7 linked regions of the Homo sapiens genome follow. The gene in region 2 interacts genetically with the main gene of each other region. Each region holds a gene or a part of one and is shown on either strand. Other genes may lie near its edges. The genes, in order: SURF4, ETAA1, RPAP1, KIF3C, KMT5B, LRRC57 and CACNG1.

The links.
Region 1: changes in ETAA1 (region 2) and SURF4 are lethal when combined (synthetic lethality), as found in Homo sapiens cells (one large-scale study listed by BioGRID).
Region 3: changes in ETAA1 (region 2) and RPAP1 are lethal when combined (synthetic lethality), as found in Homo sapiens cells (one large-scale study listed by BioGRID).
Region 4: changes in ETAA1 (region 2) and KIF3C are lethal when combined (synthetic lethality), as found in Homo sapiens cells (one large-scale study listed by BioGRID).
Region 5: changes in ETAA1 (region 2) and KMT5B are lethal when combined (synthetic lethality), as found in Homo sapiens cells (one large-scale study listed by BioGRID).
Region 6: changes in ETAA1 (region 2) and LRRC57 are lethal when combined (synthetic lethality), as found in Homo sapiens cells (one large-scale study listed by BioGRID).
Region 7: changes in ETAA1 (region 2) and CACNG1 are lethal when combined (synthetic lethality), as found in Homo sapiens cells (one large-scale study listed by BioGRID).

The regions. Positions count from the first base shown.
Region 1 is NC_000009.12:133,366,061-133,369,560, forward strand, and holds part of SURF4 (surfeit locus protein 4), read right to left. Parts: intron 1,484-3,500; coding exon of another isoform or gene 1,386-1,483; coding exon 1,199-1,385; intron 616-1,198; coding exon 539-615; intron 1-538. UniProt on the Homo sapiens protein: Endoplasmic reticulum cargo receptor that mediates the export of lipoproteins by recruiting cargos into COPII vesicles to facilitate their secretion.
Region 2 is NC_000002.12:67,403,833-67,407,332, reverse strand, and holds part of ETAA1 (ewing's tumor-associated antigen 1), read right to left. Parts: coding exon 1,998-3,500; intron 1-1,997. UniProt on the Homo sapiens protein: Replication stress response protein that accumulates at DNA damage sites and promotes replication fork progression and integrity.
Region 3 is NC_000015.10:41,541,458-41,545,531, forward strand, and holds the start of RPAP1 (RNA polymerase II-associated protein 1), read right to left. Parts: upstream 2,801-4,074; 5' UTR 2,762-2,800; exon of another isoform or gene 2,456-2,761; intron 1-2,455. UniProt on the Homo sapiens protein: Forms an interface between the RNA polymerase II enzyme and chaperone/scaffolding protein, suggesting that it is required to connect RNA polymerase II to regulators of protein complex formation.
Region 4 is NC_000002.12:25,928,298-25,930,497, forward strand, and holds part of KIF3C (kinesin-like protein KIF3C), read right to left. Parts: intron 1,767-2,200; coding exon 1,658-1,766; intron 1,181-1,657; coding exon 1,008-1,180; intron 775-1,007; coding exon 681-774; 3' UTR 1-680.
Region 5 is NC_000011.10:68,210,497-68,214,546, forward strand, and holds the start of KMT5B (histone-lysine N-methyltransferase KMT5B), read right to left. Parts: upstream 2,801-4,050; 5' UTR 2,642-2,800; exon of another isoform or gene 2,638-2,641; intron 2,091-2,637; exon of another isoform or gene 1,140-2,090; intron 1-1,139. UniProt on the Homo sapiens protein: Histone methyltransferase that specifically methylates monomethylated 'Lys-20' (H4K20me1) and dimethylated 'Lys-20' (H4K20me2) of histone H4 to produce respectively dimethylated 'Lys-20' (H4K20me2) and trimethylated 'Lys-20' (H4K20me3) and thus regulates transcription and maintenance of genome integrity.
Region 6 is NC_000015.10:42,542,294-42,545,793, forward strand, and holds part of LRRC57 (leucine-rich repeat-containing protein 57), read right to left. Parts: intron 2,970-3,500; coding exon 2,784-2,969; intron 1,832-2,783; coding exon 1,790-1,831; 3' UTR 1-1,789.
Region 7 is NC_000017.11:67,047,554-67,051,053, reverse strand, and holds part of CACNG1 (voltage-dependent calcium channel gamma-1 subunit), read right to left. Parts: intron 1-3,500. UniProt on the Homo sapiens protein: Regulatory subunit of the voltage-gated calcium channel that gives rise to L-type calcium currents in skeletal muscle. Regulates channel inactivation kinetics.

The sequences.
Region 1 (3,500 bases), on a different chromosome or scaffold from region 2:
TCAGCCTTTCCAAAGGCATTTCCACAGACTTCATAATACATTAGGCCGTCTCTCCAATGTCAGCTGGAGTCTAAAACACACAAAACCATTGTAGGAGACCGAGGACAGATCTAAGCTCAAAAATGTGGTTCTGTATTTCTCAAGAAATGTGCTATGATGTTCCAGAGAACAAAGTGATTCTGAGACCACTGATGTGGATTCAGATATTCTGTTCCCAGCATTTCATTCTGAATAACCAAGTATTCTTCTTTATGAAGCAACGTGATAACAAGACAGCATCCTGGCTGCAGCCAAGCTCGAGACTTCCCTTGTCACGGTAATCATAGAAATGGGACAAAAGATGGCCCAGTACCGAATGACCTGCCTCTACAGCCCTGCTTGGGCTCACGACTTCCCCAGAAGAGAAAGGAGCTCCAGGCAGTCAGAGACATGCAGGGGGCTGAAGGGGGAGTGACACTGAACCCTCAAGGATGTCTTTTCAGAAGCTCTGCTCCACCAGAGCAAAGAGAAGGGAGCCCCGACCACGCGGCCCGTGTACCTGCAGAGCTATGATTCCAAAGAGCCCGAAGCAGGCGTACTGCACGAAGTTCCTGCTCAACACCAGGACGCAGCCAGCTGGAGAGAAGGACAAGGGTTAGGGGGCCTGAGGGTGGGTGCCGGCGGGGAGCACTGTCTTGATACACTGCTACCTCACCTGGCCCTTAGGTCCAGAGGCAGCCAAACCACCTACCCAAGCAAAAGACAACTTCTGGAAGAATTAATGATAGGCAAGGACCACACATGGTAAGCTGACTAGACTTATCACAAACACCAGAAAGTGGAGCCCTTGCCGTCATAAAGAATGGGCTGTTTCCCACAATCAGCTCCCAAGTCAGCCACCCACCTGAGGTAGGCAATTAACTGCTCTACTGTGGACTGCCAGCCAGACTCCAGCATCTCCTGCTTTGGGTCCCTGACAGGGACCATGTCCTATTTCCTTAGCAAGCTCTAAAGCAGTGAGCTCAGGGCTAGAGACTAAGCGTCCCCACCAAGGCTTGCAGAACCGGACTCCTGGCCTGGCACAGCTGAGCTGGAGAAGAGGGGAATGGAGGGGGGACAGCAGTCCAGGAGACCCCCGAGTTCACACACAGCCTCCCAACTGCTAACGATCATGGAACAAGACGCCCAGTGAATCCTGACCACCCGCAGAGCCACTCACTCAGCTGTCCCAGCAAGTTGAGGAAGACGAAGGACGAGGCCAGCAGGTAGCCGCAGTTCCAGGTGGTGTCGATGTAGTCGCGCTGCTCGCTCCACTGGAACCACATACGGATGCCGTCCTCCAGGAAGGTGCTGATCAGACAGAGGCGCGCCACGTGGGGCAGGTACTGCTTTGTGACACGGAGGAACTGCAGGGCCACAGAAACCCAAGGGTGAGGTGGCTGCGGCGGGGAGCACCAGGCCGCTGCCAGGCACGTCCTTGGGCGGGGTGTGTGAGGAACAGACGCTGTGGAAGGCAAGAGCTCTTGTCAGCCCCGGTGCCTTCCCAGGGCAGACTAGGGGGCTCTCAGTGCTTGCTCCTGAGCGCTACCCTGTGAGTCTGGACACATGCAACAATCCAAGGATCAGTCCCGGAGATGCATGACTTGACGTTAGGCCCTCTGGGGCAGATCCTATAGGGCAGCAGCCCTAACACTCTGCTACCGTGATTTCCCCCAGTGCCTCGGCAGGCAACTACAGTCTTCCAAGGTGGCACTGCCACAAGACACAGAGCTGCTCTTTTCGGTCAAAGGCATTTACAAGTTGGAATCACAGAATGACATCTGAAAAGGCACTTAGAGGTCATCTATCCAACGTTTCTGCACCTCAGCACTACTGGCATCTGAGGCCAGGCCACTCTTTGCCGTGGGTCATCCTGGGTGCTGCAGGCTATGACGCACGACATGTCTGCCCACGACATGCCAGCAGCAGCCTCCCTCCTGAGGCACCGCTGCACTTTGCCAGGCATCTCCGCTGCTCTGGTCCAACCCCTCACCTTACAAATGGCTATATTAAACCCAGCGGGAAGGGGTTCCCCTAGGCTTCGCAGACCTGATGGTGCAATGCCAAGACTTGACCCCAGCCTGCAGGTCACACATGGCTGAGGTGCCAAGGGCCTGGACCTCCCAGCCTGCCCAGTGACGCCCAGAGTACCCTGACAGAACAAGGGTTGGCTTAGGTGACAGCCAGGGTGCCACACCTAGAGGGCCACATGGTTGACTGAATAGTAAGATCACGTTTACAGTTATCCGAAAATCTCCAGAGCAGCAGGAGGAGGCCCCAGGCTCTGGACAGCGCATGTGTGCTGTTGCAAACCAGGGCTGGCGCTTCCCAGCCCGACGGAGCTCTCCCCTGCAAGCTCAGGATCTGACGTGGGGACTGTGTGTGCAGCAACCGTCAGCGCAGCATGAAGCTGGTACCGCTAATGGCTAGAAAGCGCTGGGATTTTGTCAAAGCCTGCATAATCTCGAGCAAATTAAAACACACTAACAAATGGGATGGACAGCTGTTTCAACAGCAATGAAACGCAAGTGTGTGAAATCACTGTCAAATGTCAAAGGGAAAGAAAACATTTATGACTTCCTGCTGTGCTGTGAGTCAGGTCATTTATGACGGCTGGGTTAGGTAGCCAACATGCACTATCGGATGCCAGGTACAAATGTCACGCAGGTTCACCCCATGCACTTTTCTCTTATCACCCATGCAAAACTGAGATATAAAGTGAAAGAAATACTGTAACACAGCAAGTCCTTCGGAGAAAGATCAGGGGACCCATCCACCAACGCATGTTGGGAAGCCAGAGTCTAAAGAGCACCCGAGAGGCTGACCCCCACGGGAGGCGAGCGAACGTCAGCTGCACAGGCCTCCTAGGGCTGACTAAACCTACTGTTGGAACAAAGGAAGATATGCGTGTTTCTTATTTTTCAGCATTTTTAAAAGTTGCTTCAAAGTCCTAGACACTGCTGAAGCTGCCCATCTCAGTTACCACGCCCCTGGGTGTTCAGGTCACCCTCCAGCCTGTCAGGTGGGGCCCTGACTAGGTCAGCACTGCAGATTGGCTCCCATGTGGCAGAGAACGGAGGCAGAGATTACAAAGCCAGGTGGCCATTCTCCCCAAACCCACTGCGCCCTGCAGTGTCAGTTCTGCACACATTTACTCAGCCTTTGACTCCACGGAAGTGATGGGAGAAATCACAGTGACCGACAGATACCCAGAGAATCACCAAGTGGGTTTGGGAGATGAAGTGCAGGTGGAGGTTCTGAGGCCCTGTGATCTCATCCTGCCCTGGTACCATCCAGCCAGCACACCGTGTGACCTGGACACGCCCAGTTACTTTTTTGAGAGTGTCTCTACTATCCTGCAGTAGAGTGAGGCCACCTGAACTAATGGTTGGTAAGATGCTTTCCAACTTTACTAGGAGGAAGACCTTGTTTCACTTTTTATTTTTAAAAAGGCCCCAAATACTCCCCTGTGAATTTTAGGG
Region 2 (3,500 bases):
TGGCTTTGAATGCAGCCCAACACAAATTCATAAACTTTTTTACAACATTATGAGATTCTTTTGTGATTTTTTTTTTTTTTTTTTTTAGTTCATCAGCTGTTGTTAGTGTCAGTGTATCTTATGTGTGATCCAAGATAATTCTTCCAATGTGGCCCAGGGAAGCCAAAAGATTGGACACCCTTGGGTGTAGAGAATTATTTACTGTAAGTTTTGATAAGATAAATTGGTATAACTGCTTCGGATAGAAATTTGGTGGTATCCATCAAATTTTAAAACTTCCTCTTGTAGCAATTTTTTAGGAATTAACAGATACAATTATACAAGCATGCGGAAATTTATGCAGAAGGATATTTACTGGAGTATTGTTTGTAATTGCAAAAGACTGCAACCAACCCAAACTTCCATCACAGAGAAACAGTTAAATTATGATACATCCACCATATATATCACATAGTCATTAACAGGACTAAAATAAATTTATATGTACTAATAGGAAAAGACAGCTATAATATATTAAGGCAAAAGCAAGTTGCCAAATAGTGGGTATACAGATTTATTAATATTTAAATAGATCTATAGGTATATATATATGCATACACATATATACGTACATACACACACACATATCTTTTTATATTCATAGAAAATGCTACATCATACCAACTATTAATAGTGGTTTTCCGTAAGGGATGGTTATCAGAAAGGAGAAACAGAAGACTTAACTTTTTCCTTTAAATTATTCTATACTGTTTTACTTTTCTTTTTAAATAACTAGCATATTACTATTGTAAATTTTTAAAAAAAGTCACTTAGATAGGAAAGTTGGAACAGTAATGCCAACAAGACAGAGAAGAGTCACTAAATATTTAATTTCAACTTGTGATGAAAGCAATTAGGAAATAAAAAATAAACAAGGAGATCTATTTATAGACTCTTCAAGGAAGGCCTCTGTGAGAAAGTAGTACTTATACTGAGATGTAAGAAAGCACCAACAAAAGAGTGGGGAAGGGGTCACATGTTGAAAAGAAGTAGTTTTAGTCAAAGGGAAGAGCACGGTCTAAGTTCCTGGACAAGGAAGAAAAACATACACTGTTTGAAAAACTAAAAGATAGCTGGTATAGCTGAAGCTTAGTAGGTAAGGAAAAAAGAGGAGACGCAGGTTAAAGAGAGATAATCCACAGCTTTGTTGGTCACAGTATACAGTTTGGATTTTATTTGAAATATGACGGGCAGCCATTGAAGGTTGTTTTAAGCATAGAAACGCCATTTTTGCCCATCCAATTTTAAAAGGCTATTCCACTGTTTGGAGATAAGAATTGAAAGGAGATAGATAAAAGAACTGCAGTAGTCTCATCAAGAAATGTTAACTTGTTGTAGAAAGAAAAATGGAGTCTGGGGATACGGTTTTTGAAAGAATGAAACTTATTGATAGAATGGAGACTTGGGGAAAAGAGAAATTGGAAGAATCAGAAATGATAGCTGTTATCAAATAAGTAAATCATAATTTTAACCATCACCGCTAGCACGTTTATATCAAATATCACACTAGTAAAGACGTTTAATTAGAATGCTCTAAATTTCTAAATATTATTTACCTCACTGCTTCATCATCTGCTTCCCAGATTACTCAAGTTTTAAAACAATTTAGTAAATACAATCTTAATGAACACTATAATACATATATCTAAAGGTATGATTTTCCAAGAAAGAATAAGTTATTCAAAAAATATTTACTGAGTACCTACTATATGCCAGTCATTGTATTAAGTGCTGGGAAAGAATTCAATGTAATATTTTGAAAAATAAACCAACTACTCTGTATAATGCCGTATAATTATTTCCAAGTATCATTTTAAGAATTCTAGTTAATTCTTAAAATTAACTAGTCATAGAATAGTTTTACCTTATACATTACTCACACTCAAAAACAACAAATAATTATTTTACTACTTTTTAAGATGCTTTTCAAAGAAAACTATTTCATATTTCATACATACCTTTTGAAGATTGTTTCAAAGATTCAGAAAGTTTCACCAAAGATTGCTGTCCAACAGCTTCCTCCAGTAATGGGTTGACACCTTTCTTTTTCTCCACACCCTGTGTAATTTTGGTATCAGACATACTTCCAGTTATACAATTTTGATTAAACTGAGAAAGAATCTGAGAATTTTTCATCCTTGTAAATGTAAACTTTGAAAATCCAACTGTTGTGTTAAGGTTGCTCTGAGCTTCATCTGTTACAGTCTTATGGCATGGCTGATTAGTACTCAATTTCTTCTTATAAGTAGTAATTTCTGTATTCATATGATCTGAAGTTACATTCAAACTTGAACTTCCTGGAAGAACCAATTTGGAACTATTCACTTGTATTGGAACATCAGTGTTAGTATAAGACACATGCAGATTATTTATCTGACAGTTTGAGATCTTAGAATACATAGTCAAATTTGTGGCACCTAAAAATCTTGGAGAATTTCCATACATTTCCCCTTTCTCCATCTTCATTGGCTTATCTATTTGTGAGCTATTTGTCAAAGATGTCTGCACTGAAATGCTGCCTGGATTCAAATGCTTTGATTGTACCAAATTACTTCCTTGTTTAGATATAGCAAACATGTTTTTGGCTCCATGTTCGGAATTATTATTGATCTCACATATACTTTCTGATGTCTTACTGTCCTTTCTAATGTCTTGTTGCTGAGTTAGTTTGGCTCCATGTTCGGAATTATTATTGATCTCACATATACTTTCTGATGTCTTACTGTCCTTTCTAATGTCTTGTTGCTGAGTTAGTCTTTCAATATCATCACATGCTTGGTACAACAAATCATCATCTACATCATCTGCTTCCCAGGTATTATCTAATTGATGACATGCTTTAATAATTTCATTGGCAAATGAGGGATCATTCCAATCATCAAAGAAAGAACCTACTTTTGATGCACTAGTCTGATTTGGGTTACTAACACTGGTTTTACTGCCTAGATTTGCAGAGCCAAAAAGATCAGTATTAACAGGGGCTTTAATAGACTGATTTAAAATGCACTTATTTTTCTGTTCATTAGAATACCTTGTGTTCAAAGCTGACTTCCTTTCAGAAGCTTCAGTAGAGTTAGTAAGAATATCTTCCTTTATTTTTGTCAGATTAGATGTAACTATACAATTTTGAATTTCGTCTTGAATAACAATTTTATTGGAAGAGTTCTCAAATTTCATTTTATTTCCAGTGGATAATTTGTTTGATTTATTTGAATTTGGTGAAAATCTATATTCTGCATCTATTAATTCTCTGTCATATGTCTTTGAAGAAAGATCTTGTAATACTTTTGAATCTCCTAACCTGGCATCTGGACTTGTATTTGCTCTTGACGTATTTTTAACAGTTTTACTATTAAAGGTACAAATTTCCTTTTGATCAGTAACATGGGCTGTTTTAGAAGGAAAGAGTTCAGGCATGTCGATATTTTGCATAGCAAAAGGTTCACTACCTAGTAAGTTTT
Region 3 (4,074 bases), on a different chromosome or scaffold from region 2:
GTACATGGGAGAACATGATGAAGTTGACCACCTCCTAAAAGTTGAAGGAGGATGAGATGGAGAGGTAGACAAGCTAGATAGCTGGAACTAACAATAGTGCTGAATGAAGGCCGGGTGTGCTGGCTCACGCCTGTAATCCCAGCACTTTGGGAGGCCAAGGCAGGCAGATCACGAGGTCAGAAGATCGAGACCATCCTGGCTAACACGGTGAAATGCCGTCTCTACTAAAAATACAAAAAATTAGCTGGGTGTGGTAGCACGCGCCTGTAGTCCCAGCTACTGGGGAGGCTGAGGCAGGAGAATGGCGTGAACCCGGGAAGTGGAGGTTGCAATGAGCCAAGATCGTGCCACTGCACTCCAGCCTGGGGGACAGAGCATGAGACTCTGTCTCAAAAAAAAAGTGCTGAATGACACATTTCCTTACTTTTTCTTCATCTACTTCTAAGCAGGATCAGATCTAATAACTAAGCCAGCCTTGGAAACACCTCCCAACACAGGGGTTGGGGGCAGGCTAAAGGGGTAGAAATGGTGAAACAATCACATGACGGTGTGACCTTAAGAACATTATCAAAAAATTTTTTGAGAGTTTACTCTGGGCTGAGCGGTGTACAAGGGGCTGTAAATATAAAGAAATGGGAGTAAAATCCAGTCCCTGGGTTCAAGGGGCTTACTGGGGAGACAGAGACCATGCCGAAATGCTGGGTCTTTTAATAATTTCCCACTTCATTATCTCTCTTTGCCCACACAAGTCTAGAAATTCCAAAGGTTTACAGTTTAAATGATGTCTCCAAGATTGTAAAGGTCTTCCTTTGGTCAATGATGTACCCAAAGTTGGGGTGAGAGAATATGGTAAACACACATATAAATTTACAAGGCAGTACATCCCAGTGATGAAATTAATTGCATAGAAGATCAGTGCTACACGATTTCAGAGGTGGGAAAAATCCCTAAAGGTTAAAAATAGAGGTCAATATTGAAAGAGAAAACTTAGATAAGTAGAGAACTGAAGGAAGTGGATGAAGTGAGCAAAGACCTGTCTACAAAATTTCATCTTAAATTTGGCATAGAACTTGTATTAATTACTATTTGTAGCATGACAACAGCGAAGTATACAGATGTGCCTTTTCCTGGATGGGAGGTAAACAGTATGAAAATGGACTGCCTGTGTTCAAATCCAGGCTCTGCCATTTACTAACTGTGTAAGCTTAAGCAAGGTATTTTACTGAAGTTACTGTGCTTGTTTCCTCATCTGTAACATGAAGATAACTGTACCTACCTCCTGAATTAATTATATATATGTAAGAAGATTAGAACAGAGTCTCATACATGAAAGGACACAAACGCCAGTTATGATTCTTATTATTTATATAGCCAAAGGGCAGATAACCATATCTAATTGTTGGGCAGTCTGACCAACAAACAAGGAAAAAGTCTCCTACCCCAATGCCTACCCAAAGGCCCTAAGGAAGGCTGAACTAGATGAACTGAGAATCCATAGTATGGTAACAATTCACTCCTATAAGAGTCTACATAAGCAGAAACAATTCCTACTTATCCATGGATTCATGTGATCCAAAAGCAAAGTCCAGCTCACTTCATAGGGTGCGCCATACCTACATCACAAAGAGAGCCAGGGGGTTATGGGCACCAGTTTTGGAATCAATAGGCCAGAAGTCAAATACCAGTTCCGCTACTTACTAAATGCACTAAATGTGCGAAATTAGGCAAATTATCAATGCTGTCCTTTTTTTTTTTTTTTTTTTTTTTTTGAGACAGATTCTCCCTCTTGTTGCCCAGGCTGGAGTGCAATAGCACGATCTCGGCACACTGCAACCTCCGCCTCCTGGGTTCAAGTGATTCTCCTGCCTCAGGCTCCCGAGTAGCTGGGATTACAGGCGCCTGCCACCACGCCCGGCTAATTTTTTGTATTTTTTTAGTACAGACGGGGTTTCACCATGTTGGCCAGACTGGTCTCGAACTCCTGATCTCAGGTGACCCGCCCGCCTCGGCCTCCCAAAGTGCTGGGATTACAGGCGTGAGCCACCGTGCGCGGCCTCTATGCTGTCTTAAGTCCCATTTCCACAACTGTAAAATGTGAGTAACAGGTCCTATATAATAGGAAATGTGTGAGGATTTAAATGACTATACACGCAAAACGCCTAGCCCAGTGCCTGTTACTTATATAAATAAACCTCAGTAACAATTATTTTAGTCCTAAGTAAAGCCACCAGTGTGTTTCCCCACAAATCCAGCGCAGATTTGTCCAGAACCAATCAGTGCTAGAAGTGATAACATTTTCAGTTATTAATAGAATAAGAATGGGTTGGCCGGGCGCGGTGGCTCACGCCTGTAATCCTAAAGAGTAATGCCTAAAGAGTAACTCGTAAAAAAAAGTAGTCCTAACAATGGACCTCTGGGTTTATGTTGGCCTCTGAGGAGTCTCTGGGGCTCTTACATTGCAGCCTATCCTCCAGAGCCAGGATCCAATCCCGAGTCGGGACGCGTGACTGCCCTTACCGCTCAGGTCAAGGGCTCCAGTTAAGCCTCCTGGACCACCCAACTCTACAATGAGGAATCATCGAGTCGCAGCTTTCGCCGCCCGTTGAAGGGCCGTGCCCGAGATCTATGCACAGAGGAGGCCACAGTTGCTCCCTTACAGACCAAAGGCCCGCAGGCAGGTTCCAGCAAAGAAACTGGACACGCTACCCTGGGTCCTCCTCCCAGATCACCTGAAATCCGTCCCTCCAGCCCCGCCACCTACGTGCTCCAGGCCTGTCTGGGCGCCGCCATCTTGCCCCGCAGAGATCGCGTTTCCGCCGCCGCCAGATTCCAGCTTCCGCCCCGCAGCCCAGCCCCGCCTCTCCCGGTCTTATCTCGGAGCATTCTGGGCTTTGCTTGTTCAGTGCAGCGGACTGGTGAGCGCGGTGCTGCGCGGCTGGCGGTTTATTACCCCCACGTAAGCTCTATACCATCACCCAGAACACACATCCTTTTTTTTTTTTTTTTTTTTTGAGACAGAGTCTTGCTCTGTCGCACAGGCTGGAGTGCTGTGGCGCAATCTCGGCTCACTGCAACCTCCGCCTCCCGGGCTCAAGCGATTCTTGTGCCTCAGCCTCCCGAGTAGCTGGGATTACAGGTGCCCGCCACCACGTCTGGCTAATTTTTGTATTTTTAGTAGAGACGGGGTTTCACCATGTTGGCCAAGCTGGTCTCGAACTCCCGACCTTAGGTAATCCGCCCGCCTCGGCCCCCCAAAGTGCTGTGATTACAGGATGTGCCACCGCGCCTGGCCCACACATGCTTCTGATGTACAGCAGGCACAGCCCCTTCTGCACTTACGACACCCCTGGCAGGGACACAGCGTTCCTCAGACGTCCCTCTGCACTCACCAGCCAGTGTTACCACATCCCACATCCCAGCACCCACGCCCACGGCAGCACACAGAAACGTGGACACACACACACACCCCAACGTGACGAATGTGTTTATGGAAGAGCTAGAAGGTAACCATGAAAAAGGCCCAAGGAAAGAACACTGCCAGTGTGCACTGCAGAAATAGTGGTGGTGAGAAGAGAGGGAATAAAGCTTCCTTGCTAGCAAGGTTATCATCTTCTCCAGAATCTTGCCTTTGTTCATCCCACTCTCCCTTCTTGGAAATCCTCCCTCTTTTCCCTGCCACCCCTGTCTCCAAAGGATAACTCTTTAAGGCCTAGCTGGCGTCAACTCTAAAACCTCTGCCAGCCACGCCTACTCACCAAACTTTCCTTGGATTCACCTGGAATCTCACCGCCTGCACCAGTTGTGTGGTATGCTAAGAACACACTGCCAACTACCAACTGTCACCGGTTACCTTTTCACAGGCTTATGTCCTGTTCCCTTGAATAGACTGTCAGTTCCTTGTGGGCACCAGACCTTGTACTTTGCATCTAAATACTGAGCACCCAACGTGTTGCCATGCACATAGTAGGACCTTAAGTAAATCATTTCTAGACCAAAGGACATCATGGGGCAGCCAATGTTAGTCCAGTGGCTTTCCAACTTTAACAGGCACCAGAATCAACTGGAAGTCTTGTT
Region 4 (2,200 bases), about 41 Mb from region 2:
TTCCCATCCAAGGTGGGCAGAAAGCAGAGTTTGGGAAGCTGTGAGTTCTTGTCAAAGCTGAAGGGCATGAGCTATGTTGGTGAGGTTATTAATGTCCTTGAAAAGGAGCCCAAGAGGCTGAATGAGGTTGTCTGAGGCTCAGAAAGTGGAGAGTGGGGCTGTGTCCACGGGGAGCAGATGCCCAACACTGTCAGGATGTCTCTTGTCCTCAGGGAACACCAAGCAGTCTCCCAGTCCCAGAAAGTGCTCAGGGGCTGCTCGCCATCAGTGTGGGAGAAGATGGAGGTTATGGAGTGCGGTGGGTAGAAAAGGGACTGTCTTCTCAGGCACTGGCTACCTTCCCTTCTGGAGGCAGCTGACAGGGGGACAAGCCTGAGATCTGACTGGGGGAGCTCTCAAGTCAGAAGAAAAAGAGGCTACGCAGTGACCACGGTAGGCCCAGACGGCTCAGGCGAGGGCATCTCCCCAACACGAACAGAGCTCCGCGAATAAATAACATGAATTAAATAAAGGAGGCGAAGAAGAGCAGGCAGAGGCACCATCTGCCAGATTCTCACCCCTGCACACACGCACACGCACATGCACGCACACGCACACGCACCAAGCGGCAGATGAGATGAGCCAGGGTTGGCTGCCCCATCCCAGGAGTCTATTGGATGGGCAGCCTGACGTGATGGTTGTCACTCATGGTCCGCCACTGTTGCAGGGCGCAGAGAAGCAGAGGCCAGGGAGGCATGTGTGGTGGAAGGTGGAGGCCGCTGAGGACTCTGGCACCTGCAGGGGAGATGACGCAGGCGAAAGGGGAGGTTAGGGAAATACAGGAAACAGGAAAGTGGGTCCTCTCCTTTGCCCCATCCTGTTGCTGCAGGAATCCTTCTGACATCCCCAGTCACCCCTTGCCCTTCCTGCCCTTCGGGTACCAGCAAAACCCTCTTTAGCATCACCCAGCGCCTGCAGTTCCCCTGCCTCCTGGGTCCAGTGCTGCCTGGGACCATGGAGGTACTGACCAGGATCTGGACTTTCGGACTTTAGACGTGGAAGGTCTTTCCAGAAAGCTGTCCAATCGCATGAGCCTCTCCATGTGTAGCGCACGAGGGTCTTGTTCTTGGTCGTGAGAGAATTCCATCTCAAAGACAGCTGGAGGGGACACATCCAACTCCAGAAACATTATGTTTTCAGCCTGTGGTGGGAATATCATGCCAGGCTTGAACAGTGCCCAGTCACTGTGCCTTCTAGGGACTCAGCCAGTCTTGGGTGTAGCAGGGCTGATGAGGTGGTTAGGGGAAGCAGAGGCTGTGAGCATCCCCTCCCATAGGCTCTTTTTTTTTTTTCTTCTGAGATGGAGTCTCACTCTGTTGCCCAGGCTGGAGTGCAGTGGTGCAATCTCGGCTCACTGCAACCTCCACCTCCCAGGTTCAAGCAATTCTCCTGCCTCAGCCTCCCAAGTAGCTGGGACTATAGGCACCCATCACCACGCCTGGCTAATTTTTGTATTTTTAGTAGAGACAGGGGTTCACCATGTTAACCAGGCTGGTCTCGAACTCCTGACCTCAGGTGATCCACCTGCCTCGGCCTCCCACAGTGCTGGGATTACAGGTGTGAGACACCTCGCCCGGCCTCCCTCCCGTAGGCTCTTTCTCCCCTCTCCGCTTCTTACCCTGTACCTGGGGTGGGACCCCATTGCCATGGCAACCCGAGCATACTGGCTGATAGGCCTCTTGTAGCCCACTGCAGATGTTGGCCGCTTCTTCATCTGGCTGCTACTGCTGTAGGAAAGAGGCTATATTAGAAAGGATTTCTGTGGAACACAAACAGCAAATGACATCATGAGGACCTAAATATCATTCAGGTAGCTAGGAGGCCCTGCAGACTGCAAGTTCTGGAATTTTCTTCTCCTTGCTCTAATACAGCTTGACAACTGAAGCTAGTGCAGTTGTCCCCCTCATCCGTGGTTTCGCTTTCCACAGTCTCAGTTACTGTGGTCTGAAAATAGGCAAGTACAGTACAATCAGATGTTTCGAGAGACAGACACACCTGCATCACTTCTATTAGAGTATATTGTGTTTTTGTTGTTGTTTTGAGATGGAGTCTCACTCTGTCACCCACGCTGCAGTGCAGTGGCACAATCTCAGCTCGCTGCAGCCTCCACCTCCCAGGTTCAAGCAATTCTCCTGCGTCAGCCTCCCGAGTAGCTGGGATT
Region 5 (4,050 bases), on a different chromosome or scaffold from region 2:
TCTAGGCCCTATCAATGACTTATACAAACAGTGATAGAGCAGAGAATGGAATAAGAATTGATTCTTATTCCATGGTCCTTCAACTATTCCTAAAATTACACTTCTATACAGCAGTCATCATTTGACATACGGCCCTAGAAGATGGCCTGGTGTTCAAGTCTGTCTCATTCGGAGACCGGCTAGCCCCAAATCAACCCCATCCAGACACATAATGGATCACCCCCTGCATTTACTTAACATGCAGTATTGTAGCTAACAGGGTGATGGAGCGGAGGGAGGACACATGGTCCCTATCGTCAAAAGTGTGAGGAAGATTCTTAACCATCAGAGCGTTCTAAGGCTGACATAGTCGGGGAACTCCTGACCACGGAGAAGGATTTTGCCAATGGAGAGATTTGCCAATGTAAAGCTCATACATGGTACACAGAAACACGAAATAATGGGACCACGGCGATTTATCTGAAAGGATTTGCTCTGTAAGCCATGGGAAGGGCATTCCTGTGGACAGGGAGCTGCTTAGATGCCACACACACAAATCTCTTTATCACACAACCTGGCCACGAACCCAGGCCCTATAAACCCACAAACTGATAATCAGGTAAAGGAAAATCAGATTCAACCTCCTTTTTAAATAACCCAAGAGAAAAATCACCAACATCCCCCACCCACTAAATTCTCTGCTGAAAGACACGCAGACACCGGGACACTTCCTTCACACGCGTCTCTCCCTGTCAGAGTCCGCTACCCTCCATCCACCTCCACCTTCCCCACTACTGTCCCCTGGCATTTGCTGCGAGAATAAAAAGTTCACTGCATGAGCAGTTCAGGGTGTTTGGGAAAGCAGATGAAAATAAAGGCGCGAGAGCACTTGGAAATGATCATGGATAAAGAATCAAGCCCTACCCTACTCTCTTATTGAAGAAATATCTACCATATTCCCTTCACTCTCCAGCTCAGTTTTTAAAATATAATTATGTTTGTAAACAACATTAAAGTGGATTTATTTTGAAAAACTAATACAAACTATTAAGCTTGACAACTTGGAGATTAATAAATTAACCCATTCATTAAGGGTCTATGAGCACCTACTCTGTACCTGCCCGTGGGCGGACGAGATAACAAGAGACTCAAAAACTCACGAGTAACCACCCCAACGGCTGTGTGTGTGAAGGTTTCACCAGGAAGCAACATTCTCACGGGGCCTTTCTGAAGGACAAGAGTGTACGGGGTGGAGAAAAGGGGTGGAGGAATGCCGGGCAGGGCACGGCCGACAGGGACCAGGTATGGGAAGCTATTGGAGCCAGAGCTTGGGAGAGGGACCAGAATGTCGAATGTTTAGAGATTACAAAGTGAAAAATGGGCTGGAGTTCCCACACAAGCCGGGATTAGAGCGTTTGTGGACTCTAACCTGGGAATATAAGGCGCTCCAAGAGGGACAGGGCCACACCTCTGGTTCAAATTGCTAAACCTTCAGATACACAATAAATCTGTATTTACAGCAAGCGGCAATTTATGTATTTCAACATGCACACATTATCTGTAATTATTTCAGGTAAAAATGGTTTCCTCCTCTTTTGAAAATACTTCTTTTTACTACTAATTATCAATATTATAGGCGTGTTCTCAATATTAAAGACTAAAGGAAAAAAGTTATAGCTGGCAACTGCTTCCTCTAAAGATCCTACACAGCAAAGTTCAGACCTGTATGGCCATCCTCAACTACACTTTATATCAAACTGGTTTAAATCGAAAAAGGTCCACATCACAAAGAACCACAATCAATCAAATTAATTCACCTGCCCTCTATTCTAAGGAAAACTCCCCCCACTCCAGGTAAATTTCATTTGGCAAATTCTTAAAAATTAACTTCAAAGAACACATGTTCACCTCCCCAGTATTCCGAAAGTTCCACCACTTAATAAATCGTTAAGTTACTGTTCCAGACCCGGGTCCAATAAACCCAAATAGACTGAATTTCTCAGCACCCAACTTGTTTCTATCTTAATCCAGCAAGTTGCATCGAGTTGTCATTGTTCCTCCTTCCAAGGCGGAGGTGACAACGGTGCACATCATCCGCGAATACGTGGAAGGACAGACACACACCAGGGGACGCAGGGAGAGCGGATAAAGCACAAAGGGGACGCAGCGGCCGCGGGGTCGCCGGGCCACGGCCAGGGGCGCCGTCGGGGAGGAGGGTGGGCTGCAGGACGAGCTCGGGAGGGCTCCGAAATGCGCTCGGGCCAAAACAAAAACAAAAAGTTCAGCGCGGCAGTGGGAGCAGATTGGGCGAGACGGTTCACGGCTGCCCATTGGAGAAAAGGGAAAACAGAGTCCCCCAATCGCGAGCGGCGGGGCTGCTCCCCTCGTGCGGCCGCGGGCCCGGCCCCGACGCTGCCCGGCGGCCGCTACCGCTCCCTTCCGGCCGCGGCCACCACTGCAGGCCCCGCGCCGGCCCCGCACCGGCCCGGCCGCAGCCCCGCCCCCCGCGCCCGGCCGCTTGCGCCCGGCCCCGGCCCCACCCGCCCTGGCCCCGGAGCCCTGCGACCGGCCTGGGCCCGCGGTCCCCCACGTCCCTGCCCGCCCCGTCACCGAGGCCGCCCCCCGCACACCCTCGCCGGCGCCCGCCCCTCCCCCGACTCACCGCCTGCGCCGCCCCGCTCCTCCTCGGGGCGCGTCCCAGGCCCCGCTGCCCGGCCGCTGCGATGCGGGGCCGCGCCGCCGGGCCCCGCGTCCCAGTCCCCCCCAGAAAATTAATCACCAAAAATAATTCCAGAGAAAAATGGAGAGTAAAATCCAAGATGGCGGCGCGGGCCGCAGCACCGCTCGCTCCCTCCGCTGACGGGAAAAATGAGTCCCCGCAGCGTCCGAGCCCCCCGCCCCCAACCGGCCGCCGCCGCCGCCGTCGCGCCCCCCGCGCCCCCGGCCTCGGCTCGCTGCGCCCCCGGCGCCCGCCCCCGCGCCCCGCCACCCGGGGCCTCACCTCGCCTCGCGCACGGCCGCCCGTACGAAAACCGTCCGCCGGCTTCAGGACTCCGCGTCCCAGGTCCGTGCGCCGCGCGGTGCCGCCTCCGGTTCCCGGGCGTCCTCACCTCATCGCCCCGCTGCCCTGCCGCCCGCACCGCCGCCGCGTCGCCGCCCCCGGTGAGCCGCCTGGACCCCGCCCGGGCACGGTGGAAGGATACGAAAAGAAGGCCGCGGCCTCGACGGCGGAGGGACACCGTGCGGCGCAGCTGCCACAGTGTGCGCGCGCCTCCCGCCAGGCCCAGCCGCCGCGGCGCTTCCACGGGGCTCTGTGCGGGACGCGGGCACGCGCGGGGAGCGAGTTCTGTGCCGGGCGCTCCCGACGGCGGAGGGACAAAGGGCGATTCAGAGCGAGCCGTCGCCTCCCCTCGTGGCGGAGGGATTCGCGGCCGGCCGGTAGGCGGCTGGGATCCCTCCGCCCTCGCTGCCCTTTAAATCGCGGCTGAGGCGGCGTCGCCCGCGCCCCGCGGGCGCCACGTTAGGGTCCCCTGCGGCCCTTACGCGACCGCATTCCGGTCCCGGTCCCCGCGGGACCGCGGCAGCTGTCCCGGGCCCTGGGTCTTTGCACACCTGCCCCTACCAGGGACGGCTCTAGAGCCAGCCTCTCGGACTGCAGCCCTGGGGAAGGGGACCCCCCCCCCTCCCGCCGCGCGTCCCAGTTGCTCCGAGGGAGGTGGCCCCGGGCAGACGAGCGTTTTTGTTGTGGGAATGGGGGTCACTGGCAGCAGATGCACCCTAAGACCGTGTGGGCAGGCTGAGCGTTCCTGCGCGGAGCATGCGAGGGAGGAGGAGAGCGGGCGCGCCTTGGCCTGGCCCCCCGCGGGCCCCGCCGCCCCCAGCACCCACTATGTGCCCCGCGCCGTGCTCCGCTCCACTCCGGGTGTGCCCTGCGCGCTGGCCGTGCGATCCCTCCTCGGGGATCCCGGGCTGGCGGGGAGATCCTGAGGGACCGGGCCGCCTGCGAGCCGGGGAGCTGCGAAGCTTGCCTGGGCATCGATCTTGTAGTCCAGACAACAGAACGATGAGCGC
Region 6 (3,500 bases), on a different chromosome or scaffold from region 2:
ACCTCAGCCTCCCAAAGTGCTGGGATTACAGGCGTGAGCCACCGCGCCCAACCTCAGATTCTCTTAATAAGCATAGTTCTAGTATCACAAAATGTTTATGTCACATGAAGGCATTTCACTACTCATACAATCTGAACATAAGCATGAAACATGTCTTCCTAATCTATTTATAGGTTTAAGTTCTCCTGTCCTCCTCCTTTAAAGGATTAACCTTGCTTCCAGCCAAAGTTCATTAAAAAATTCTTTATTTAGTATATTCTGTCACTCAGAGAGTAAGCTTGATAAACATAGGTTGTTTTAAAATATTATAGTAATGGTTTATTGATAGGTAATTTGGTTAGTAGAGTTATAAATACAAAAAGGGAAAGGTTACCAGAAATAAGACATTATTTCTAACAAATCTTCAAGAAAATCTTGATTATTAAAGTCCCTTTTATCTTACAAGTGTTGCATATACAGTTTTGGCTCTTCAGAGCCCTCTACCAATAAGGCACCTGCAATAGTAGATAATTTGCTACCGCAGCCTTAGAGAGCAGTTCTTAGAGGTCTGCTGGTGCTTCTCTTGACAAAGCACACTTTTTTTTTGTTTCCCCCGAGACAGAGTCTTGCTCTGTTGCCCAGAGTCGGAGTGCAATGGCATGATCTCGGCTCACTGCAACCTCTGCCTCCTGGGTTCAAGCAATTCTCCTGCCTCAGCCTCCCAAGTAGCTGGGATTACAGGTACCCACCACCACGCCCAGCTAATTTTTGTATTTTCAGTAGAGACAGGGTTTCACCATGTTGGCCAGGCTGGTCTCGAACTCCTAACCTCGTGATCTGCCTGCCTTGGCCTCCCAATGTGCTGGGATTACAGGCGTGAGTCGCCGTGCCCAGCCAACAAAGCGTACTTTAAAAAAAAAAAATTATTTTTTATTTTTTTAATTTGAGACAGAGTCTCACTCTGTCACCCACGCTGGAGTACAGTGGCATAATCTCGGCTCACTGCAACCTCCACCTCCTGGGTTCAAGCGATTCTCCTGCCTCAGCCTCCCAAGTAGCTGGGATTATAAGCATGCACCAACACACCCAGCTAATTTTTGTATTTTTAGTAGAGACAGGGTTTCCTCATGTTGGCCACGCTAGTCTTGAACTCCTAGCCTCAAGTGAGCCACCCGCCTTGGCCTCCCAAAGTGCTGGGATTATAGGCATGAGCCACCATGCCCAGGCCAAAGTGCACTTTTAATCAAGACAAACAGTCACACATTTATGTACATCCTAAAGTCCTAGTATAAAAACTGCGACTGAACTGATGGACTAGAATAAAAATAATAAATCCTTAGATCCATGCCAGCCTCTCACAAATTATCTGAATTTCATAAAAATATGAAGTGTTAACACAGAGATGGAATGGCAACAGACTTTATGAAAGCTCACACAGTGAAACTAAACAAAATCTCAAGCTGTGGTGTGGAGCTATTCTGTTACCAGGCAGCACCCCCTCACCATATAAATAGCAGCTAGCTACTGGTTTCTTAAAGCCAAACTAATGATGGTTTTGAAGAGAACCTTGTCTATTGCCCTACTCATGACTCAAAACGGAAGACTTTTCCTGTCTCCTGATCCTTTTTCTTTTAGCTTATTTGAGAAGAGCCCTGAAATGAGAAAAGATCATTGAGTGAAATATAATCTCCTGAAGTATCATCTCCTTACTGTAGATACCCCTAACAACAACAGGAGGCTTTGACTCAGCCACATTCCAACAGAGGTTCTAAGTCAGTATCCTGTAAGGTTTCCATAGTCCTGGAGAACTTCACGCAAACTTCTTCTTGGTGGCTGTGAACCTCTCCATGTACTAAAAAACATGAAAGAATACATAAGGGGTATTTTGGCATGAGTAAATAAATATAAGCCTAACTATTTTTTTTTTCATTTTGGTTTTTATTGCATGTGGTTTTTCATTTCCTACAAAATATAACTGCTGTAAATGCAAAATGAATTACATAGTTTTGGCCAGGTGCAGAGGCTCACACTTGCAATCTCAACACTTTGGGAGGCCAAGGTAGGTGGATCGCTTGAGCCTAGGAGTTTCAGACCAGCCTGAGCAATCTACCAAAAATAGAAAAATGAGGCATGGTAGCGCCTGTAGTCTCAGCTAATCAGGAGGTTGAGATGGGAGGATCACTTGAGCTGAGATCCTGCCACTGCACTCCAGCCAGGTGACAGAGTGAGACCTTGCCTCCAAAAAAAATAAATAAATAAAGCACATAGGGCCGGGTGTGGTGGCTTACACCTGTAATCCCAGCACCTTGGGAGGCTGCGGCGGGCAGATCACTTCAGCCCAGGAGTTTGAGACCAGCTTGGCGAACAAGGCAAAACCCCATCCCTGCAAAAGTTAGCAAGGCATACTGGCACACGACTGTGATCCCAGCTACTAGGGGGGCTGAGGGATGAGAATCGCTTGAGCCCAGGAGGTGAAGGCTGCGCCAGTGAGCTGAGATTGCGCCACTGCACTCCAGCCTGGGCGACAGAGTGAGACCCTGTCTCACACACACACACACACACACACACACTATATATATATATATATCAAAAGACAAAGATGAAGACAAAGATGCTTTACAATAAGCTGTCTATAGAGAAAAAGTCATCTTGGTACAATACCATTCAGCCAATGCTTTGAATCTACTTCCAAAATGGGGAAGAACAAATCCTGTTGACATGAGCTATAAACATTTCTGTGGATTACTTCACCATTGTCTTCTCTGGGGTAGTGACTAGAAATGCAGAAGTACATTAATTCATACCTTATCATAGCCTTCCAGTTCTCGAAGTTTCTTTATTTCAAAAAGATTGCCTTCCACAGCAAGCAGACAGATCTGGGAATCACTGAGGATGCTCTGGGGAAGCATGCTGAGCTCAAGACAATTCTCTTCCAGGCGAAGAATTTTAAGGCGTGGACAGCAAGATATCTTCACTGAGATCTGAGATATCTATTGAAAAACCACAAAAGAATAACAGGAAAAAGCATAAGCACTATACTGGTTACTTTTAGTACATTAAAACAAAACAAAAATCTTTACTTGACTATTTGTTCTAGTTTTCCCCTCTTTTACCACCTCCATTTTCTCACTGCCTACTCACTCCAGAAGCCTCTGTTATCTAGCTTCTGTTACTACGCCCCCACTTAAAAAAAATGCTTTTATGAAGGTCACCCATGGCTTTTTGGGAACAAAATTTTCTGATGATAAAAGCACTGTATGTTCATTATAGAAAATTTGAGAATCACAGGTTTAAAGAAAAAAGTTTACCTGGAATCCACCACCCAGAAATAACCACCATAAACATTTTGGTACATTTACTGCCAATGTTTTATGTGTACATAGATACTGACCACTTTACTACCAAATTCAAGGATCCATTGTCCTCAGTCCCTACTGCATTTAACTGTACTATCTATCCCTTCCTTAAAACCCCTTATTTTTGTCCTTTTTTGGTTTTTCTTCCTATCTTTTGGATTCTTC
Region 7 (3,500 bases), on a different chromosome or scaffold from region 2:
GCCCTGGCTTCCATCACACTTACACAAAGCTCAGGGATTGCAGCTTTGCTTCCGACTAAGTCAGCAAAGATTCCAATGCCAGGATGATGATCTGGGGTGTTAGGAACTCTGAGGTCGTGCCATTCTCCTTTGTCTCTGCAGATGGCTTATGCTGATTTTAATCTCCTTATTTCTGTAAGACTCAGCGGTTTAAAAATATTAAATGGGTTATTTATTAAAAATATGGTGAACTCAGCTCTCAGACTTGACTGGGGGATGGAATAGTCTGGCTAACCCAGTGTTCTGGTTAAGGGCATCAGTAACTGTGCAGAACCATGTGTAGTGTGCCAGTTTCAAAGAATTAGAGCAGAAGCCACATTTAGCTCCAAGCTGAACTTGAGTTAATAGGGATCTTTCTTTGATAGTTGGAACAGCTGGCAGGATTAGTGGATGCCTTGGGTTATCACTGAGAATGTATCAGTGTGCCAAGTGACTGTCCATGGAGACTTTCATATATTCAAAGATACTTTGTGGATTTGTCCAAAACCAAAGAAACTGGTACTTTAGGGGTGCAAGGAAGCCTCTAACTTGCATTGATGTCAGTGTTGTTTTTAGCCTTTTGGTAAAAGAAGTTCTATCAGCTCCCAACAGTGGTTTCTCTGGGCTGTGTCTCCTTCCACATCTCTGATTGAAGAATTTTATAAAATGGGCTGGAAATCTCCAAGACCTGACCCTAGAGCTTCAGAGCACTGCTCTTCCATGGGAGAAGCCTGGCTTTGGCCTAGGCCTCTGGCATGGACTTCTGTGGGTGGTGAAGTGAGCCCATGAAATTCCTGGGGTCAGTAGTATCATGCTCTTTTATACAATCCCAGTTCCCGCACTGAGAGAAGATGGACCAGTAGGGAAAATGGGGCACTAGGCAAAGTGGGCCCTGGGGCAACCTGCCTCCTTGCCCTAAAGAGGCAGAGTCTGAAAGAAGCAGCACTTCACCCAGCCCAAGGGCAGGGGATGGCCTCTTTGCGGGTTCATTTGGACTTTCAGAACACATAGTCTCTCCTTTGGGAGAGGCTCCTACTCTCATTCTGGAGGCATTGGAATTGGTCTTGGATGTTGATCTTGTACATGGAAGTCCTTCTAAGACTGTTTGGAGTCTAAGACTGTCTAATTTGGAAAAATTAGACAACTCTTGCCCACTGAGCCTCCAACATTTTAAGACTAAGTGGGACCTTGAGAAGTCTGCTCCACTGCACCAGCTTCTGGTCCAGCTGCCCTCAAACTATGCCATGTCAAAAGCTGGACTCCTTGTGTTCACTTGGGTCAGAGCTTTTAGGAGCTGTGTTTTCATGCACAATAGAGGGTGTGAGAAGGAACTGGAGGGAAAGGAGGCTCTGGATTCAAGACTTGAGTGGAGAACCTCTATTTGTTAGCTGGTTAGCCTGGGGAAGGCTATGCTCAGCCTCCCTGTTCCTACCTGTAGAATGAGACCCACCTGTAGAATGAGAACCACCTGTAGAATAGGAACCACCTGTAGAATGAGAACCACCTGTAGAATGAGACCCACCTGTAGAATAAGAACCACCTGTAGAATAAGAACCCACTCACTGGGTTGTTGTAAAGTAGTTAATGTATTGACTAAAACGGTGAATGTTAGGGTCTGAGTGTGAGTCCTGGCTGCTCTGCTCATCACCTGTGTTACCTTGTCAAATATCTCAACTCTCAGTGGTTGATTTTCTTTATCTGTAAGATTGGGATGATGATAATAGCATGGCCTTCACGGAGGTTTCTGTGAGGATTAGGTGAGCTAATATATGTATGTCATCCCACCACCTTCTGGCCTCCATAGATTTGGGGAAAAATTGGCTGTTCATCTTATTAAGGATTCCTCATATGTGGTGAGTTGTTTCTTTCCGTTTTTAAGATTCTCTGTCTCTATCTTTCAACAGTTTGATTATCATGTGTCTAGATGTGGATCCCTTAGAGTTTATTCTACCTGGAGTTCATTAAGCTTCATAAATTTGTCGATTTTTAACGTTTTTCATCCAATTTGGGAAGCTTTTGGACATTATTTTTCACATACCTTTTTTGCTCCTTTCTCTCTTTCCCTCTCCTTCTGGGACTCCCTTTACATAAACTTGATGGTGTCCCATAAGTCTCCGAGGCTCTCGTCATTTTTCTTTATTCTTTTTATCTGTCTGTTCCTCAGACTGGCTAATCTCAACTGACTTATCTTAAAGGTCACTGATTCTTTTGCCTGCTCAGATATGCCATTGAGCCCCTCTAGTGAATTTCTCATTTTAGTTATTGTACTTTTCAACTCCAGAATTTCTATTTTGTCCTTAAAAATAATTTCTGTGTCTTAATTGATAGTTTCTATTTCATGAGGCATCATTTTCATCTTTAATTGTTTTGATTGTTTTTTCTTTGGATATATTTACTATAGCTGATTTAAAGTTTTTGTCTAGTAAGTCCAATATCTGGCTTCCTTACAGATCTATTGACTTCTCCCTGCCCCATGTATGCCCCTTATCATTTTAGTTCTTTGTGTGTCTTGTATTATTTATGTATGTATTTATTTATTTAGAGACAGAGTCTTGCTCTGTCACCCAGGCTGGAGTGCAGTGGCATGATCATAGTTCACTGTAGTCTCTAACTCCTGGGATCAAACAATTCCCTCACCTAAGCCTTGGGAGTAGCTAGAATTACAGGCACATGCCACCACTCCTGGATATTTTGTGGGGTTTTTTTTTTGTTTTTTTTTTTTTTTTTGGTAGGGACAGGGTCTTGCTATATTGCCCAGGTTGATCTCAAACCCCTGGCCTCAAGCAGTCCTCTCACTTGGCCTCCAAAAGTGCTGGGAATACAGGAGTGAGCCACCACACCCAGCCAGTATTTTTTAAACAATATAATGTGGCAACTCTGGAAATCAGTTGTTCCCCCTTCTTGAAGATTTGTTCCCGTTGTTTGTTTAGTGACTTTTTTGAACTAAGATGGTAAAGTATGTGTTTTTTGTCATGTGTGATCACTGAGATCCCTGTTCAATTAGCTTAGTGACCAATTATAAATTTCCTAAAACGCTTGGCAACAATGCCTCTCCCAGTCTTTACTGAGGGGCTCTGTGCATATGACTTTCATGCTCAGCTAAGCCACCCACATCTCTGCCTTAGCCTTCACTTCCTGCTTGAACAGAGTCTCAAGATAAGGCAGAGAGTGCTTAGGGCCTTCTCAGGTCTTTCCTGAGCATGCATATAGCATTGTGCATGCATGTGGCCTCCTAGATTCCCAGGAATATGTTGGAGCTTTTCAAAGCAACTTATGGACATTTCAGTCTCCAGTTTTTTGGTTAGCCTGTTGTTTTCCCTAACTGTTATCTACTGCCTCAGACAGCCATGATGTTAATCAATCATCTCTAATTATTTTCAACAAACATCCCCAGGGAGAAAGACTATTTGCACTGGATGAGCTCAGAGTCAGGTCAAACAGAAACAGCTTCTCAAGTGGGGGTTTTCAGGGAATCACCAGAC